Regions from separate parts of the Homo sapiens genome. Here region 1 is linked to region 2. The links come from fine-mapping of genetic effects on gene expression. A gene starts in region 2. The other region holds a variant in brackets. All regions are shown on one strand. Distances are between the middles of the regions. Region 1 has its middle 21 kb from the start of ZNF467. Region 2 holds the start of KRABD3 (KRAB domain containing 3).

The links.
Region 1: its variant is fine-mapped to the expression of KRABD3 in monocytes (Fairfax 2014, PIP 0.95).

What each region holds. Positions count from the first base shown.
Region 1 is chr7:149,748,157-149,757,958 of GRCh38, forward strand. No RefSeq gene overlaps it. Among named protein-coding and RNA genes, the nearest start is that of ZNF467, 21 kb to the right of the region's middle. The variant A/G (reference allele first, on the strand shown) is at 5,418.
Region 2 is chr7:149,709,407-149,719,208 of GRCh38, forward strand. KRABD3 (KRAB domain containing 3) reads left to right here and starts at 5,545. Exons shown (of 17, transcript NM_001290187.2): 1 at 5,545-5,660. The coding sequence starts at 5,649. RefSeq lists silencers at 4,072-4,366, 5,193-5,632 and enhancers at 4,698-5,197, 5,835-6,467.

The DNA of each region.
Region 1 (9,802 bases), 39 kb after region 2:
AGACCCTGATGCACAAAGTCTCAGACACCCTGACAGAGAGCTCTGGCCCAGAGAGCTTATTCACCGGCTTATTAGACGACTTCCACTTTGGGTAGAAATAGCCCGGCATGGTCACTGGCTGGGGACTTCCTGGGAGGAGCATGGCCTTGGCTCACAAGCTGGGGTGGACCCTGGGTACACTGACAGCAGCCAGCTGTCAGCTCACCATCCTCTTCACAGAGGAGCAGCATTGGGTTTGGAAGGGAAATCCAAGGGTGCATCTCCATGGTTGCCACAGAAACAAGGGATACGGTTTGGCCTAAGGAATGCCAAGAATCTGAGGCTCATCTGATACAAAGACCTTCTTCGCACCTCATTCCTACTTTACTCTGCGGTCAGCTCCATTCTCCCTCACTGAAAACCAATCTCATTCACATGATAAGAAATATGGCCTATGGAAGCTTCCATGTGTTACTTCCTACAGCTTTTGTTACCCAGGAGGGTCTGACTCACACGGTCACTGGTCCAAAGTTCAAAATCCTGGGGAAGGCCAACTGGCCCAGCTTGGGCTGGGTTCCCTCTCCTGGACCAATCACCTGGTGCCAGGGCCAGGACCATGCAGAAATACAGCAGCTCCATCTCACCAAGCAGCTCCATCTCACTGTTTTTTAGAAAAACAGCAGCACTGACTACATACAATTAGATATCTGTTCCAAATGGTCTACACATCTTGTCTCCATTTCCTCACTCCAATTCACCCTTCAGACATTTGCAGTCGAACTTTTGCCACCATCATTCTACTGAAGCAGCTTTCTAAGTGACCGCCCATGAGTTTATAGTTAATAAATCTGATGGTCCTCTTGAACTGTCAATATAACAGTTGCTGACATAGGACTGGCTCTAGCTATTGTGCCCACTGCAGTAGATACTTGGGCCTGACTGTCCAGCCTGGGGGCCAGCATTTCCCTGGGAACTCCCATTTCTTCCATAAACGGGTAGGACATGACATCCATAGGACAACGATCATAGCTGAACAACCCTGGGATCAACTTGACCTTAGCTTAGCTAGATTCTTTCTTCCAGGAGTCTGGAATTGAGAAAGTTAGTCAATTGTTTGAATGACTACACCAGTAACTGGTCAATGTGGAAGCTATGGAGAGGCCACCTTTGCTGTGCTCTATGAGTGAAGAAGCAGGAAAGCTGGTCCACAGAGAAGGAAGGAAGGAATGCACAGAGAAGCAGGGGAGAAAATAGCGCATCTGGTGAGTAACCCTGGAAGAAAGCAGTTGTGTGGGGTACACAGCAGAGCAGAAGCTGAAGCGTGGTCATTTAGAGGGTGCATTGCCCTCATTAGGGAGTCCCTAATGAGGAGCCCCATACAGGGAGCAAGTGACCTAGAAGAACTCAGCAAAGGACCTCATGAGAGACAAAGTCACTATTCCAGCAGCATCCTGCCACACAGAGGACACCTGGGTTGGGTGACAACAACACTGGTCAGATGGGAGGCATTCTCCTTCCCCTCCTTCCTGTCATCCCCCTGGGGGAGCCAACTGGGGCCCAGGGTGTGAGGAAGAGCAGTGAAAGAACAAGATGGAGATCACTGAGACCTGGGCCCCTTTTCCCATCACAGCAGTCCCCAGTGAGATTGGAGAGATGCTTCAGAGTGGATGAGATATAGAAGTTGTGGGTTAGATGGTGCTAGACTTTTTAGTAACTGAAAATGAGACTATTCTAACTTCCAAGATATATTAGGATCCACCAAACATATGGTCCAGGAGTGGGTGTGACCAGAACTTCTCCTGCCCCTGTACACTCACTACCGTGCCATGGGTCTTGGCTGCTGTTCCCACCAAAGACGGTTTTCCCACCTCTTAAACCTTGGGGGGCTTTGTAACTTGATTTGATCAAGAGAATATGGCTGAAGTGACACTGTGTGAGTGCTGCAGCCATGGCTTCAGGAAGCCCTTACAGATTCTGCACCAGCCCCCTTGGAATACAGAGCTGGCATGTCGGAGGCCCGGGTCAGCCTCCTGGAGGAGGAGAGAGAGGCCTAGCCAATAGCTAGCACCAACCACTGGATATGAGAATAGGACCATTTTGGACCACCCAGATCCAGTTGGGCCACAAGAGCCACAAGGTAACTGTACCTGCAAGGAGGAACCCAGGTGAGACCAGCCAAAAACCACTCTGCTGAACCCAGTCCAAACTGCTAACCCACAGAACTGTAAGCAAATAAAAGGTTGTTTTAAGTGGCTCAATTTCGGAGTGATTTGTTACACACAATAAAAAAGTGATATAGCGAAGAAGGCAGATACAACAGAATGGGTTTGAATGCGACGATGAAAGAAGAAAATAAAGTTGTTTCTTGCCACTTCCCAAGTCCAGCTCATTTAATTTACAAGCAATATTTGCAAAAGGCAGATCCGGGCAGCGATGTGAGATTTTTCCCCTGGGTATTCTCAAGTGCCTAAATACCTACTTGGTTTAAAATAGATAATTCTCAGCTGGGCACAGTGGCTCAGGCCTGTAATCTGAGCACTTTGGGAGGCCAAGGCAGACAGATCACTTGAGGTCAAGAGGTTGAGACCAGCCTGACCAACATGGTAAAATCCTGTCTCTACTAAAAATACAGAAAAAAAAAATTAGCCAAGCGTGGTGGCAGGTGCCTGTAATCCCAGCTACCCAGGAGGCTGAGGCAGGAGAATCACTTGAATCCAAGAGGCAGAGGCTGCAGTGAGCCAAGATCGTGCCACTGTGCTCCAGCTTGGGCGACAGAGTGAGACTCTGTCTCAAAAAAAAAAAAAACAAAACAACATAGATAATTCTTATCTCTGGACTCTCCCCTTGTCCCACTCTGCAATGTTTCCCTTCGGACATCTCCTCACAGAGCTGTGGAAAGCTCAGAAGGCCCCTCTCTGAAGCCTGACTGCTGGTCACCAGCATTGGCCCTCAGAAGGCTGCTGCCAATCAGGGCTGAGGAGAAGCCGTGACCTTCACTGGGAATAGAAGTGGGGGCGAGGGGTGAGCAAGCTCTGCTTTCTTTCCTGAAACAGCAAAATGAGACAAGTGTGTGCACGCTGTGCTGCTGCAGCTGCGAAATGAAAAGCTTCTCATTAGCATCCTTTGCACAGGGGTAGGGGTGGGGGATAACTCAGGGACAGCTCTCAGAGTGCAGAGCTGGGGCTTCTGTTCCCAACCCAGGCCCCCGGCAGGCCCCCTAGGTGTGTCATCTGCCTCCAGCCCAGCTAGGCAAGTGTGCTTCCATCTGGGTTGGGGAGAGGGATGGGTGGAAGTCTCCTGTGGGGTAATTGTGAGTCCTGATCTGGTCCCAGAATGTGAGCCCACCTTAGTTGTGGGACCCTGGGACCTCCACCCTCCCCAGCCCGCTGAGCAGGGAGGGGCATGCAGAGCTGGGTGGAGGGGAAGCAGGTTCCTCTGGCCACACAGGCTCTTCCTGTGCCAGGGGCAGCCCAGGCACAAGATGACAAGGAGAACCGGAAACTAGCCAGCAGGGCCTGCCCTGCAAAATCATGGATTTCCTCTTTCCCTCCCTCCCACCCTTCAGGCCCCAGCAGAACCTCTCTCCTCCAGGCCTCCGTTCTGTCATGCAGGATGAGAGCAGAGGTTCTTAAACCAGCTCTGCGGACCATGTGGGCCCACAGAGGGGCTTAAAGAGGGTGTCCACATACCCTCTAAAATTACGTGCAAATCATTGTTTCTATGCACATTACTCTGAAGGGAGCTTTAAACAACTAAATGCTTGGTGGTTTGCTAAAGGTTAGGAACCGACAGCCTAGAAAATTCTCAGGCCTCTCCAACACTGACATTCCTGCTTTCCCCTTTCTGTCTGCTTTCCTGAGTGTGGTTCTCAGCTCTCTTCTTAGTTCAGGTAGCTCTCTTCTCATCTAATACATATACTTTGCAGTAACGGCCAACGAAGGTGGTATATTACAGTGAGGCTTTAAATGGGACATGCAGAGTATGTGAAACATACCAGATATCTAACTCACATAATTGCATTTGAGCAGTAAGTTTAGCTTTAACCATCTCAGCAGCCACATGAAAAAATAGATCGCTGAATTTATTAACTTTGGGATTTGTGTTTGCTGTCACCCTGTCTTAGTTCACAGCTATAACTCTGCAGGGGTGGATTTTAGGCACTCAGATTATCCGGTAGGGGAGGGATTTTGAGATGGGTAGGCCTTGTAAAGGCTCCTCTTCCACCTGTACAATTCAACATACGTGTTGTGAGTGTTCAAATGTGCCAGGTCCTGGAAATACCAAGACAAAAAAACACGACTTCCGCCCTCGAGATGTTCCCAGTGGGCCTGGAGAGATGAGGCTCCTACAAGGGTGTAACCTTTCTAAACCCCGGTTTCCTTACCTGAGAAGTGAGGACAGCAACCCCGTACCAAAGGGGGCTTAGGGGAATTAAGTAGGAGCCTCAGTCACAGGAGGCACTCACACATTTTAGGCACACGCGGACACACCCAACAACTGCAGGCGACATCTGGTAAGGTGGGAAGCAGAGGAACCATGACAGCTTAAAGGAGGAGATTGTTGTGTGCTGGGATCATTGGGGAAGGACACCCCCAGGAGGTGGCCCCCATCTGTGCTCGAAAAATAGGTAGGATTTAAAAGGGAAGTCAGGGCAGTAGGCACTTTGTGATGGGGAAGCCCAGGGAGGCCGGGGCAGGAGGCAGGAAGGACCACACGGCCCGGAGACAGGAACAAGACCGCTTGGTGTAAGGGAGGGTGTGTACCCAGGAGGTTTGGAAAATAAGTTTCAAAAGTTTGTTGGGGCCAACTGTAGAGAGCCTTGAGTTAGAACAGACATGTATTGCACACTGGCTAGGTGGGCACTCTGCTCTGTGCCAGGGAAGCTTGCCACCCCCAGAGGGACACACAGAATAATGTGGCACAATGTGTCAACCGCTAAGGCCTCTGGATATTCAGATGAGCAGAAGTTTCTAAGCTGGGGCGTAATAAGTTATAAGGAAGATCAGCCTGACAGTTGGAGGATAGATGGGGAAGCAGGAGTTGGGGAGAAGTCAGAGGGGGACCTGATAGGAGAAGGTTGCCCACTGGCCTGGGCTTGGGGGGACAGTACTGGGAGGGTCAGGGGCAGCAGGGGCAGCAGGGCAGGCATCTGCAAAGGATGAGCGTGCTATGACGCGAGCTCCATCATTCTGGAGAAAGAGGATCCTGAGGCCTTAGGAGTTCTCCTGGAAGCCCCACAGTGAAATCTCAAGAGAGAAAATCCCAGCGAGGACAGGGACACTGGGCCCACGGGAATCCTGTCTTGCTGGGCCGGAGGGGAGCCCTGGGTCTGGCTCCTGTAGAGCCTGAAATAGAATCCGATTTGCGATGCCCCTAATGATGTTATGTAATGACATTGCATAAGCCCGTTACGTAAATCAAAGTCCTGCTATTGACCA[A/G]GAATGTCCCCTGCCCCAAGGCTGACCTAATCCCACGCCTGAAGGCTCAGTCCTTTGTGGCAGTTGGATAAATCTGTTTCCTAAAGCCTCTGTGAAACCCTCCCGACCTTAAAGTCTCTGTCTTTAGGGTTCCTGGGGCCTCCTTCTCCGTTGCTGCTTCTCCACTGTGGGAGGCCTCAGTGTGACACTCACTCATCCTTCCCCAGGTGAGGGTTCCCAGGGAAGGACAGGATTCCAGTCCTTCCACCAGCGTGGAATTGTGGCCGTGCGCCCTCTTCTGGGGGTCTTGCATACTCCCTCTGACTGTGAAATACAAGACTTGTCTCTGGTTAAAAGACATTTCAAGGATCAGTAAGTGAGTGAAGAAGTTTTCTTCCCTGTGGGGCATGGGTGGCCTCCCCAGGACCCTGGAGTTAACAACTACGAGCAGGTTCTTGAGTCCCAGGAGCAGAAAGAATCTTTCACTACTGGAAACCAGCATGTCCCGTGAACGCACTCACCAACCTGTCTGCCTTCAGTCGGCCCATCTGTCTCCCTGAACATACTAGCAGAAGCCCTCCCACCCTCAACCCACCTCGCCAACCCCCACCCCGGCTCCCCTTCAAGCCCTCTCCCCAGCATAGGCAACATCTTCCTCGGGAGGCTGTCTCCTTCCTTCATCTATGTCTCTCTACAAGTAAATCCTGGTGTGCACACCACCACCCCCGACACATAAACACAGTTTACAGAAACACCAAACAAAACAGTCATGTTTGATGGAAAAAGGCTGAGTTCCCAGTTGCTCTTAGTGTCTCCTAAAAGTCAACTGTTTACTGTCCTATCAAAGCTATTTTACTGTTATAGGACTAGGAAAAATTTAAATTTAAAAATCACACGAAGAATAAAGTAACACAAAGCAAAACTGTTTATGTTTTATCTTTTTTTTTTTTTTTTTCAGACAAGTTCTTGCTCTGTCACCCGGGCTGGAGTGCAGTGATACAATCTTGGTTTACTGTAACCTCAAACTCCTGGGCTCAAGGCATCCTCCTACCTCAGCCTCTTGAGTCACTAGGACTACAGGCCTGCTACCATGCCTGGGTAATTAAATTTTTTTTTTTTTTTAGAAATGGAGTCTCCCTATGTTGCCCAGGCTGGTCTTGAACTCTTGGCCTCAAGTGATTCTCCCACCTCGGCCTCCCAAAGTGCTGGGATTACAGGTGTCAGCCACAGTGCCCAGCCTCTTTTGGCTTTTTTGAATGATATGACACATCTCCAAAACATAGCACAGGGTGGATCCAAGAGCTCCTGGGGTAAGAGCTGCCTGGACCCACAGGTCCACTCTCATGGGCTCTGATTAGAGCTGCACTGCCCCATTCCCTCCCAATACCAGGAGCCCTCATTTCAGCCTCAGCTCCCCCAACTTTGACACAGTATTTTACTCAAGGTCTCTGTTATGAATTGAATTGCGCCCCCCAAGAAGTCCAAAAAGTTGTGTTGAAGTCCTAGCCCTGGCCCCAACCTATGAATATAGCCTCTTGAAAATAGGATCTTTGCGGATAAAATCAGGATGAGGTCATTAGGGTGGGCCGTTCTCCAATATGACTGTTGTCCTTATAGGAAGAGGAGGGACACAGACATGCCCAGAGTGGAGGAGACCCAGGAAGAAGGTGATGGGAGGATGGAGGTAGAGATTGAAGTGCTGTGTCTATAAGTCAAGAAATGGCCAGGAGAAAGGCCTGGAACAGAGTCTTCCCTTGAGCCTTCAGAGGGAGTGTAACACCTGATTTCACACTCATAGCCTCCAGACCGTGAAGGAATAGATTTCTGCTGTTTTGAAGCTATGCAGTGTGTAGCACTTTGTAAAGGAGGCCTCAGGAAGCGAACACAGCAGCTTCGGTGAACGCAGTGCCACATGGCACAGCTCCCCCCTTGCCTGTGTGCAGGGGGCAGCAATGTCAGCAGGACAATTTTCAGGCAATTCACAGAGACTGTGGCTTGGAGTTGGGCCCAGGCTGGCCAGTGTCTTGGGAGTCTGTGAGGCCTCGACCCTCTTCCCAGGTTGCTATCTGCCTGCCCCATAAACACATCCTGAGACTTTGCTACCTTCCTTTCCCCCTTCCTTCCTGGTGTTCTCTCAGAGCTGTACCTGTCTGCACTGCCTGGTCTCCTTGGTACATCACCTGCTTGGACATCAGCCACCCTTTCTCAGTGCCTCGATTCAGGATGCCATAATATATGTTTTCTATGAAAATGAAGCTTCATTCTGCCTGCCGATTCCTACCTATTTTAAATCACAGCTGACATCCACGCCTCAACAAAGATTCCCATAGCTGTAGCTCCATGATTCATGATCGCGTCTAGAAAGGGAACATTTTGCAACAGATAGCCAGGCCCAACTTCCATGGCTTCATGCTTCTTCCCAGGTCTCTGCCACCCAGCACTGTCCTCTCCCAGGAGACAGATGCATGCTAATGCCACGTGTGTGTGTAACAGGTTTCCCGGCTGGCTGGAAGCCTGGTCCCCAGTTGCTTACAGTCTTGGCAAGTTAATTCACCTCCTCAGAGATGCCCTCCTGATCTCCAGGTGTGAGTCCCTGCTCCTTGCTCCTTGTTCCATGATCCTTTGCACATACTTCTCTTACCAACCCACTAGGTCCAACCGCGAGTCTGTGAGTGCCCTGAAGACCTTGAATGTGTGTCCTGAAGACCCCTCTCTGCAAGGGGACAGTGGAGCTTGGTGTTTAAAAGTACAGGTCCTAGGAAAATGCAAACCAAAATCACTCTGAGATGTCGCCTCAAAGCCATGAGGATGGCCAGTATCAAAAACCAGAAAATAACAATTGTTGGCAAGGATGTGGCGTCATTGGAAGCCTCATGCATGGCTGGTGAGAATGTGAAATGGTGCAGATGCTGTGGAAGACAGTATGTCAGCTCCTCAAGAAATTAAAAATAGAATGACCATATGATCCAGCAATTCCATATCTGGGTATATACCCAAAAGAGCTGAAAACAGGCACTCAAACAGACATATGTACACTCCTGTTCACAGCAGCATGATTCACAATACCATAAGGTGGAGGCAACCAAGTGTTCATTGGTGGATGATTGGATAAACAATGTAGTGTAGACATGCAATGGAATATTCAGCCTTAAGAAGGAAGGAAATTCTAAGACCTGCTACAGCATGGATGAACCTTGAGAACATCATGCTAAGTGAAATAAGCCAGTCACAAAAGACAAACACTATGTTATTCCACTTATAGGAGGTCCCTAGAGTAGTCAGATTCATAGAGATAGAAAGTAGAATGATGGTTGCCAGGGATTTGGAGAGGGGAGAATAGGGTTTAATAGGCACAGAGTTTCAGCTTTGCAAGGTGTATTAGTCAGGATTCTCTAGAGAAAGACAACCTTGGGGTGTGTGTATATACATGTAGAAAGAGATTTGTTTTAAGGAATGGGCTCATGTGATTACAGGGGCTGGCAAGTCCAAAATCTATAGGGTGGCTTTGGCTGGCTGGAGACCTAGGGAAGAGCCGATGCTTCTGCTGGCTGAATTCCCTCTTCCTTGGGGGAGGTCAGTCTTCTGTTCTGTTCAACTGATTGGGTAAGGCCTACCCACATTATGGAGGATAATCTGTTTACTCCAAGTCCACCAATTTAAATGTTAATATCATCCATAAACCCTCATATAAACATATAAAGATAATGTTTGGTCACATATCTGGGCACCATGGTCTAGCCAAGTTGACACAGAAAATTAACCATGACACAAGTTGAAAAGAGTTCTGGAGATGGATGGTGGTGATGGTCACATAACGTGAATGTTCTTTATGCCACTAAACTGCAAACTTAAAAATGGTAAAGATGTTACATTTTATGTTCTGTGTATTTTGCCACAATTTAAAATAATGTAATTTTTTAAAAAGCACAAGCTCTAGAGTCAGACCACCAGGTTGCTTTCTTGCGTCACGTATGGCCTCATGTCTGTGCACAGGTCATGGAGACTGTCTGAGTTTCCTTCACCTCATCAGAATAACCAGACTGGGGCGGGCACAGTGGCTCACGCCTGTAATCCAAGCACTTTGGGAGGCAGGCGGATCCGCTTGAGGCCAGGAGTTCAAGACCAGCCTGGCCAACATGGTGAAACCCCGTCTCTACTAAAATACAGAAAAATTAGCTGGACATGGTGGCACGTGCCTATAGTCCCAGCTACTCCGGAGGCTGAGGCACAACAATTCCTTGAGTGCGGGAGGCAGAGGTTTCAGTGAGCCGAGATCGTGCCACTGCACTCCAGCCTGTGCAACAGAGCAAGACTTGTCTCAAAAAAAAAAAAAAAAAAAAAAAAAAAAAGAATAATTGGACCAGGGACAACGATGCCCCATAATAGGGAGGTGGTCAGAATAAACA
Region 2 (9,802 bases):
AAGACGGCCTCACAATTCAAAGTAATAAAATATACAAGGAACCAGCCTATTATGAGTGAGAGCCACCAAACAAAATAAAGTCATAAAGTCAGGCCATAGAGTTACCAGATAGATACTATAAAGTAAGGATACTTAAAAATCTTTAAGACATGAGGAATTGAAAGCGTGGACACCTATGCTTTTTTTTTTTAAAGATAAAGCAGATACATCTAAAACGAAAAGTGCAGTCACTAAAATTGATCATTTAATTAACAGATTAAACACACATTAGACAAAACTAAAGAGAGATTTAGGAATGAAAGAATGTAAATCTTTTAAAAATCACTAAGAATGAAGCACAAAGGCCTAAAAAAATGAAAAATATCTAGCTAAAAGAGATGGTGCAGAATAAAGGGGTCCAACAAAGGTCAAATACAAATTCCACAAGAAGAAAGTGTAATGGGGAAGAGGCAATATTTATTTTATTATTATTTATTTATTTTTTGAGACAGAGTCTCGCTCTGTTGCCCAGGCTGGAGTGCAGTGGCGTGATCTCAGCTCACTGCAACCTCTGCTTCCTGGGTTCAAGCAACTCTCCTGCCTCAGCCTCCTGAGAAGCTGGGATTACAGGTGTGTGTCACCATGCCTGGCTAATTTTTTGTATTTCAGTAGAAGCAGGGTTTCACCATATTAGCCAGGCTGGTCTCAAACTCCTGACCTCAGATGATCTGCCCACTGTGGCCTCCCAAAGTGCTGGGATTACAGGCGGGAGACACCACACCTGGCCTAAATTTTTTTTTTTTTTAGACGGAGTCTCTGTTGCCCAGGCTGTCGTGCAGTGACACGATCTCAGCTCACTGCAAGCTCCGCCTCCTGGGTTCATGCCATTCTCCTGCCTCAGCCTCCTGAGTAGCTGGGACTACAGGCACCCACCACCACACCCAGCTAATTTTTAAAATTTTGTATTTTTAGTAGAGACGGGGTTTCACCATGTTGGCCAGGCTGGTCTCGAACTCCTCACCTCGTGATCCACTTGCCTCGGCCTCCCAAAGTGCTGGGATTCCAGGTATGAGCCACCATGCCCAGCTTGGGAAGAGGCAATATTAAAAGATATAATAGCTGAGAATTTTCCAGACTTGTACAAAGATGTGACACCTCAGATTTAGGACTCACGAGTTCCAAGAAAGATAAATAAAAGATCCATACCTAGCCACATTGCAGTGAAACTTCATGATACCACAGATAAAGAGATTTTTTTTTTTTTTTAGATGGAGTTTTGCTCTTGTTGCCCAGGCTAGAGTGCAATGGTACGATCTCTGCTCACTGCAACCTCTGCCTCCTGGATTCAAGTGATTCTCCTGCCTTAGCCTCCGAGTAGCTGGTATTACAAGCATGCACCACCATGCCTGGCTAATTTTTTTTGTATTTTTAGTAGAGTCGGGGTTTCTCCAGGTTGGTCAGGCTGGTCTCAAACTCCTGACCTCAGGTGATCCTCCCGCTTCAGCCTCCCAAAATGCTGGGATTACAGGTGTGAGCCACCATGCCCGGCCAAACAGATGATTTTAAATGAAGCCAGAGAAGTTAAATCATATGCAAAGGAATAATTAGACTGACAGCAGACTTTTCAATAGCAACAATGAAAGTCAGGAGACAATGGAATAAAATATTAGAAGTGTGAAACAGTTCTCTCCCTGGCTAAAGTATCATTCAGGAGTGAGAAAAATGTAAGACATTTTATATAACTGAAAGTATCCACTTCTAAAATATCCTTGCTGAAATAAATTTTAAAAGTTCTGCTTCAGGAAGAACATTGAACCCAGAAGGAAGAAGAAAGAGGCAAGAAAAAAGAGTGAACAAAGATAGTGGTAAGCACATTGGTAAATCTAAACAGCATAGATTGTATAAAACAAAAACAATGACTTCAAATATCAGGAGAGAGTCTTAAAAACAAGATGTAACTAAAAAGAACAATAATTACACACAAGACAGAAGGGGAAGAGTGTGATTAAACTCATATTCAAAAAGCTTTCTATCATTTGCGAGAAGATCAGAAGTAGTAATATTAGATTCTATTAAACCAAATATGTGTGTAAAATTACAGAGTAACCCCCAAATGAATAAAAAAGGAAAGCATAACTTTCAAATCAGTAGATTCATGATTATGATAGAGATTGTCAGACTGGATTCAGCAGCAACAACAAAATCTAGCTACATGCTCTTATATGACACACATCTGAAACATAAATATACACAAAGTTTGAAAGTAAAAGGACAGGAAAAGATATATCAAAGAAATACTTGCCAAAATAAAGTTAGTGTAGCTGCAGCAATATCAAACAAAATGGATTATAGACAAAGACTATTATTAGGGATAGTGTTACTTTCTAATAATAGAATGAACAATTCTCCAGGAAAATACTACAATTCTAAATTTGTAAGCACACAGCCTCCAAACACATGAAGCGAAAATTCTCACAAATTCAGGGAGAAATTGACAAATGCACAAACTTGATATGAGATTTTAACACCTCTTTAGTAACTGATAGTTCCAAATGCAAAAAGATGATAAACTATAGAAGGCATAAACCACATGATTGATAAGCTTGATTTTACAGCTCTAACTAGATCCTACACCAATATTAGAATATATGTACTCTTTTAGGCAAACATGGAACATTTTCAAACATCTATTGCACACTTGGCCACAAAGCAGTCTCAGAAAATTCTAAAAAATCAACATCACTTACTACATTCTCTGACTATAAGGCAAAACTCAAAAACAAAATAACTCATAAAAAGATTCGTATTTGGAAATTAAAAAGTACTTTTAAATAATCTCATGGATGGAAAAAGAAATAATAATGAAAATCAGAAAATATTTTAAAGTTGCAGCCATTTTCACATGGAGGACTGGCCAGCACAATTTGCCTTTAGATTCATTTGGGAAAAGTGCCGACTAGTTCACCAAAAGTCAATTCACAGAATGACCAGATAGCCAAAAGCCAAATATGGTAAAAGCTAAACCACTGAATATCAACTTGCTAAACAACCAATCTGAATTATTGAAATTTTTTTTTTTTTTTTTTGAGACAGGGTCTTGCTCTGTCACCCAGGCTGGAGTGCTGTGGTGTGATCTTGGCTCACTGCAACCCCCCTCTGCCTCCTGGGCTCAAGAGATTCTCCCACCTCAGCCTTCCAAGCAGCTGGGACTACAGGGGTACACCACTGCACCTGGCTAATTTTTGCATTTTTTGTAGAGATGGGGTTTCATCATGTTGCCTAGGCTGGTTTGGAACTCCCAGGCCCAAGCAATTCACCAGCCTTGGCCTCCCAAAGTGCTGGGATTACAGGTGTGAGCCACCGTGCCTGGCCCCAGCCAAGGAATTTTTAAAGATGTGTTTCAGCTCCACTCCTGCCTTTGTCTGTGTCCAGAGCCATCCAATAAACCTGGTTCAGGACAGGTCTTCACAACTATTTTTTAACGCACACACACGGGCTGAGGTAAATACAGGTCTACAGGGTCAAAGGCGCAACTAAAATTTGGGGGATAGGGGTGCCAGGAAGTGTCTCCATAATTTAAATAATTGGCCATGCAGCAAATTTCATGTTGGTGAACTGCTTTTAGCGACTGATGGTCCACAAATGGGGCAGGAAGCCTAGCCAGGAAGTGGACGTTTGAGTCAAAGAGGTGCCAAGAATCTGCACAGCTTAAAACAAAGGTGCATCTTACTTGGATAGAGATTTCTTTCTACAGGTGTTTAAGTTTAAGGCAGGGGTCCCCAGTCCCTGGGCTATGGACCAGTACCAGTCCTGGCCTGTTAGGAGCTGGGCAGTGCAGCAGGAGGTGAGCTGCGGGCAAGCCAGGGAAAGCTTTATCTGTAGTTACAGCCACTCCCCCTTGCTCGCATTACCCCTGAGCTCTGCCTCCTGTCAGATCTGCAGGTGCTGGATTCTCATAGGAGCCAGAACCCTGTTGTGAATGCGGGATCCAGGTTGCGGGCTCCTTAGGAGAATCTAATGCCTGGTGATCTGAGTTGGAACAGTTTCATCCCAAAACAACCCCCCTCCCAGTCCATGCAAAAATTCCCTTCCACAAAACCGGGCTCTGGCCCAAAAGGTTGGGGACCCCTGATTTAGGGGGTTTTAACGTTTAGGGATCCCGGGCCGGAGGGTGGGCGGTGGAGAGGAGCTGGGAGCAGGAACACATTACTGTAAGGAGCCCGCCTCACCTCGGCACGGAGGTGGGACCCGGCCTAAAGCCCAGGAGGCGACTTACCCTGAGGGCTGTGGCCTGTAGGGCTCTTGAAAAGTTGGACTTTTAAGTTTTCCCTTTCCGCGAGGTGGGGCCTTGTGATATCTTCAAATCCTTGTTCAGCAGGCTGCGCACACGCCGGTCCTGTGTCTAAGGTGTCTCGGGTATGACCGAGGGGGCTTTGCCCGAGTGGGCGTGCGCCTTTCCTCGGAGGCCGGGACGAGGGGTTGTCGGCATCGTACCCGAGTCCGTGATCATGGCCGGCGCGGCTGCAAGGGCCAGCCCCGGGCGACTGGGCGAGGAATTCCCTTTCCTTCCCTCCGATATTGCCCAGGCAGAGCGCTGTCTGGGCCGCAAGGTCTGGACGGGGCTTCCAAACTCAGAGCAGAGTCTCCTCTGCGTGGGACCACAGCCTCCCCTTCCCCTCCAAGCTTCTGTCTGGCACAGCAGGCTTAGCCCCGCAGGCCCCCTTCCAGCAGCCTTCTATAAAAATGACGGGGTCCTTCTCCAGACAGGAAAACCAGGCTCGCTGCGCCTCGCCCGCACCCCCGGAGCGCTCTCGCAGCGCCCGCCCAGACCAGGCCTTCGAACTCGTGAAGCGCAGGGGGAGGCAGAGGAGAGTGGGCCGCGCTTCCTTCCCGCATCACACGTTTATTTGAGGCCTACTATGTGCCAGGAACAACTGGGGTTACCACCCCAGCAAACAGGCACGCAAAATGTGACACGAAGGTAGGTCATGGCTGCGGCGAGCGGGGGCGCGGGCGAAAGACGTGAGGATGTACGGGGGCCTGGCAGCTGCTCTGTCCCACCCACGCCCGGCCGGACCCTCGACCCCTTTCACTCCAGGTCGGGTTTCCCCGACCGCGGCCTCTGGGAAAGATGGGTCCCTCTTCATCCCCACCATCAGCCCCTGGCACATGGGACGCGCTGAGTGGTGGCTGCGGGAATGAATGAGTGATAAGCGGCGCGTACCCGCGGGCTTGCACGCCCACAGCCGCCCCGGCTGGTCTCGGCGCGCAACCTCTACCCGCAGCTGGGGGCGGGGACGAGGGGAGGGGGCGGGGACGAGGCCCGAGCCAGGTCCGCCCCGCCCTGTCTCCGCCCCCCGCTTCCGAGCCGGCGCCGCGGCGCCTTCTGGGAAGTGTAGTCCGCGTCTGCGCCGGCCGGCCGGGCCGCCGAAGCCGGGGGCTCCGGGCGGAAACGGCACCACCCACCAAGGGATGCGAGGCGCTCGGGGCGGGCTCAACGAGGCCGGGGGCGGGCCCGGGCGCGCCCACCCCCGCCCCTCCCCCTCGGCCCAGGCCCCCGGCCCCGCCTTCTCCTGCGCGGACCTGGGCCGCCGCCGACGAGGGTCGCGTGCGCCCGCGCCAGGGCCCGCGCCGGAAACCGAGGAGTGGCGGGGAGGCTGAGCCCGGGGATGGCGCGCCAGGTAAGGCAGGCGGACGCGCGGACCCCTCGGCGCAGTGCGGCCCCGAAGGCGGTAGGGCGAGAAAGAGCTGGGACCCCCCCGCAACTTCGGGATCGGCTGGGTGAGGCTGGGCAGGCCTGATGCTCAGGGGTTCGTGCCGGGAAGTTCAGGTCCTCGGACAACCTCTCTCCAGCTCTCCGCCGCCGGTACCCACGGCCCAGTCTCCACCTGGGGAAACCCCCTTGGCGTGGCTTGTTTCGTTACAAGTTATCCTGGTAGAGTGGGCATGAAGGCCTCGGAGGCAGTGAGTAAATCTCATACTTCTGTTCTTGGTGGAATCCTGGATCCCGGGGGCTGGGGACGTGGAAATGGGGAGAAACAAAGATAGAACAAACCCCAAGTTTTGTCTTGGGAAGCCTGCAGGTAAGGCGTTTAGATCTGAGAACTGGAGGGAGAGCCCCAGGCCGTGACAGCCTGGGCACCGTTTGGGCTAGGTTGTGTGTGGGCTGTGACGATGCTGGGAAACTCTGGTGCTGATATCAGTGAGGTATCAGGTATCTGGTGCTGATACCAGCAACTGCTCCACGTTCTTCTGGATGGGCACCTGGAGCCAGTTCTGCAACCGTGGTGGCTCCTGAGCTTTGGCCAGTCCGAGGCAGCCATGGATGGGGGGCAGCGTGTGACTAGGCAGAGCAAACACTGTGCCAGGCCCTTGGCGTCATTAGTGCCCCCAAGCATTTGGGGAGAAGGGAGAGGCTAGGCAAATTGGATGTTGTTGGGCAGGGACAGTCAAGTGTCCTTTTCAGGTCTGGCTGCACAGTTAAGTAGCCTAGGGACACCCTGGTTCAGACATGCCCATGGCCCCATCCTAAGGCCTCCTCATACCACAGTTTCCTGTTCTGTAAAGTGAGGAGTTTGGGCCATTGACCTTTCAGATCTGATGAGGGGAATATCCTCACACTACGTAGCTTCATGGAGAAGGTGGCCAGGAGTGACCTTGGGGAGTGGTAGGTCACTGTAAGGTGGAGAGGAGCAGGGAGGGTTCCCAGAAGCCCAGGGCAATGTGAGCACAGCCTCCAGGTTGAGAGGTCCTGTGGCAGGGTCTGATCAGGGAGCCCGAGCCTGAGGCCCACTGGGAGAGCAGGTCTAGGTTGGGAAGGACTGTGAGAGAGGGGCAGGTCCAGCAGGCACTGAAGCTGCAGTTTTTGTGCTGGGCTAGTGACACGGTGGAAGGGTGATGTTAGGAGGACCAGTGTGCAGCTATGAGCTAGGAGGCTGCCCAGTTACAAGAGTCCTGGGTCAGCCCAGAAAGCTTTTCTCCATTGGTTGGGGGAAGGAGGTGAAGTGGGGCCCGAGGAGGAAGGCCGGTGGTGTGTGGGCAGAGCCAGCCAGTGGTGGCCTTCCTCCTCCCGAAGATGAGTTTTGTAGCCCAGGTGTTTGCACACTCACACTTGCTCACTCCCTCACACACAAAACCCTCACTCTTTGCTTTTTCTGGGGAGAGGGAGGCCACTGGCAGAAGCGCCTACCCTGGCCACAGTCAGTTCCCATTCTCATTTTCTAAGAATTTTATCACAAAACAGTTTGTCTTGAGGCTGAGATGGTGAGAGGCCTGGAAAGCATCTCTTACAGATTCCTGGAAGAGCTGGGATATATTTAGTCTGGAGCGAGAGAGACACCGGTGGTCAGGAGCAGTATGTGGAAGAGCTCAGCTGGCAGGCTCAGACCTGCAAGCGGGCATTAGGCAGACAGGTCTGGCTGCAGTATTACTAATCATAGCACTTAATATTCATAGTCCCCGCATTTGTTCTAGGCACTATTCCTGTATTTGTTTTGTCTTCACAATACCTCTATGAGGTAGGTTGTTATGATCCCAGTATTACAGATGAGTTCACTGAGGCCCAAATAGGTTAGGTTTGGCTGAGGTCTCATAACTAGTATGAAACAAGGCAGGGATTGGAATTCTGGCAGCCTGGCTCCTGAGGCTAGGCCCCAGTCACCGTGCTCTGCCCCGGTCTCTGGGTCCGGAACCTCTTAATGGCCACATCAGGTCAGCAGTGGTACCAGTGCAACCAACATAGCTGGTATCATGTTCTTACCTAGAGCTCAGACCTGCCTTGCCAGCTCTGTGTTGAGCCATCAGAATGTCATGTGGGAACCCTCTGCCTGCCATGAACCAAAATTCCAGACTCCCAGAAGGAAAGCAGGGGTGTGGCACACACCACGTCATTTGCTCAGCCTAGGCACCTTGAGCCACTCCCATCATTTAGGGAATGGTGGGAAGCCTCCTGACACCTAAATACCTGGAAGCCAGCCTGAGCCCTCCTGGCAAGCAGGCCTTCCTAAGGACAGCGGTCTAGGGCTGCTCTGCACGCTCTTCTGCATAGACCCTGATGTTGGCTACATTTTCTCTGTTCCAAGATGCTAGGAAGAAATGTAAATAACTCTTTGAGAGAAGTTTTGGAGGGTGTCTGAGACTGTTCCTGAGAGGGAGTGACCATACCTGGGCCAGAGCCACAGAGGTTTGCTCAGGGAGAGTCTGCACATCGAGGCAGGAGGCAAAGGCTGCAGCATCTCACTGCCCATCAGCCTCTGGGCCTCCGGGCCTCAGGCAGGCAGTCACGGGAGGGGCTGCCCCTTGCCAGGGGTGTAGATGCAGCCTGGCCAGAGGGGAGCACTGGTAAGTGTGACTGCATGGGACAAGTTATCAGCTGTTCAGGGAGAACAGGCAGAGAGCCCGGCAGTAAGTGGACAACAAGGCTGCCGGTTAGTGGCAGGGACAGTTTTTTGTTTTTCTTGAAACAGGGGCTGGAGTACAATGTTGTGACCTTGGCACACTGCAAATTCTGCCTTCCAGGTTCTCCTGCCTCAGCCTCCCAAGTAGCTGTGATTACAGACACCCACCACCATGCCTGGCTAATTTTTGTATTTTATTAGAGATGGGGTTTCACCATGTTGGCCAGGCTGGTCTTGAACTCCTGACCTCAGGTGATCCACCCACCTGGGCCTCCCAAAGTGCTGGGATTACAGGCGTGAACCATCACACCCAGCCTGGGACAGTTTTTAGAATCACTGACTTGGGTGGGTGCAGGGGCTCACGCCTGTAATCCTAGCACTTTGGGAGACCAATGTGGGAGAACCACTTGAGCCCAGGAGTTCAAGACTGGCCTGGGCAACATAGTAAGGTCCTGTCTTTTTTAATTAATTAATTAAAATAACTGCCCTGAGCAGATGAAACAAGCGGTGAATTGTCTTTGCTTTATTAGGGGCGTGTTCATTTTCTTTAATAATTTGTTCTCACAAATAAACAGTTTAACATTCATTTCTCAACAGGAAGGACCCTTCCCATAATTTACCTTCTGTTTGCTTAATTTGCACAGTTAATTTTTGCCATAATTTTAAATTCAAGCCTATTGATGCTGGTCATTTTCTAGTGTCTGATGGCCACTTTAAAGTCCACTGAAGGACTTTTTTTTTTTTTTTTTTTTTTTGAGATGGAGTCTCGCCATATTGCCCAGACTGGAGTGCAATGGCGTGATCTCGGCTCACTGCAACCTCTGCCTTCCGAGGTCAAGCAATTCTCCTGCCTCAGCCTCCTGAGTAGCTGAGATTACAGGCGCCCACCACCACACCTAATTTTTGCATTTTTAGTAGAGACAAGGTTTCACCATATTGGCCAGCCTGGTCTCGAACTCCTGATCTCAGGTGATCTGTCTGCCTTGGCCCCCCGAAGTGCTGGGATTACAGGCGTGAGCCACCACACCCAGCCGAAGGATTATTTTGTAAAGAAACATAGACAAAAATGCTCGTGTTATTTTAAAAAGCCACAGGGTAGGAGGAGATGAGTACAGAGAATAGGAGATAGGAGTACAGGGTGTAAAGGAGCCTGGTGACCCAAAGCTTCCAAGGGCAACCCCAGGTTTCTTCTGAGCACTTCTCTAAACCCAGCACACAAACTAGGTGGACAGCAAGAATGTCTTCTCTCACAGCCCTGCAGACCCGAAGCCCTACGTCACAGTGTGGGCAGGCCACACTCCCTCTGAAGGCTCTGGGCCAGGATCCTTCTTGCCTCTTGTGGCTTCTGGTGGCCCTGGGCATTCCTTGGCTTGTGGCTGCATGACTGTAGTCTCTGCCTGTCTTCACACAGCTTTCTTCTTTTGTGT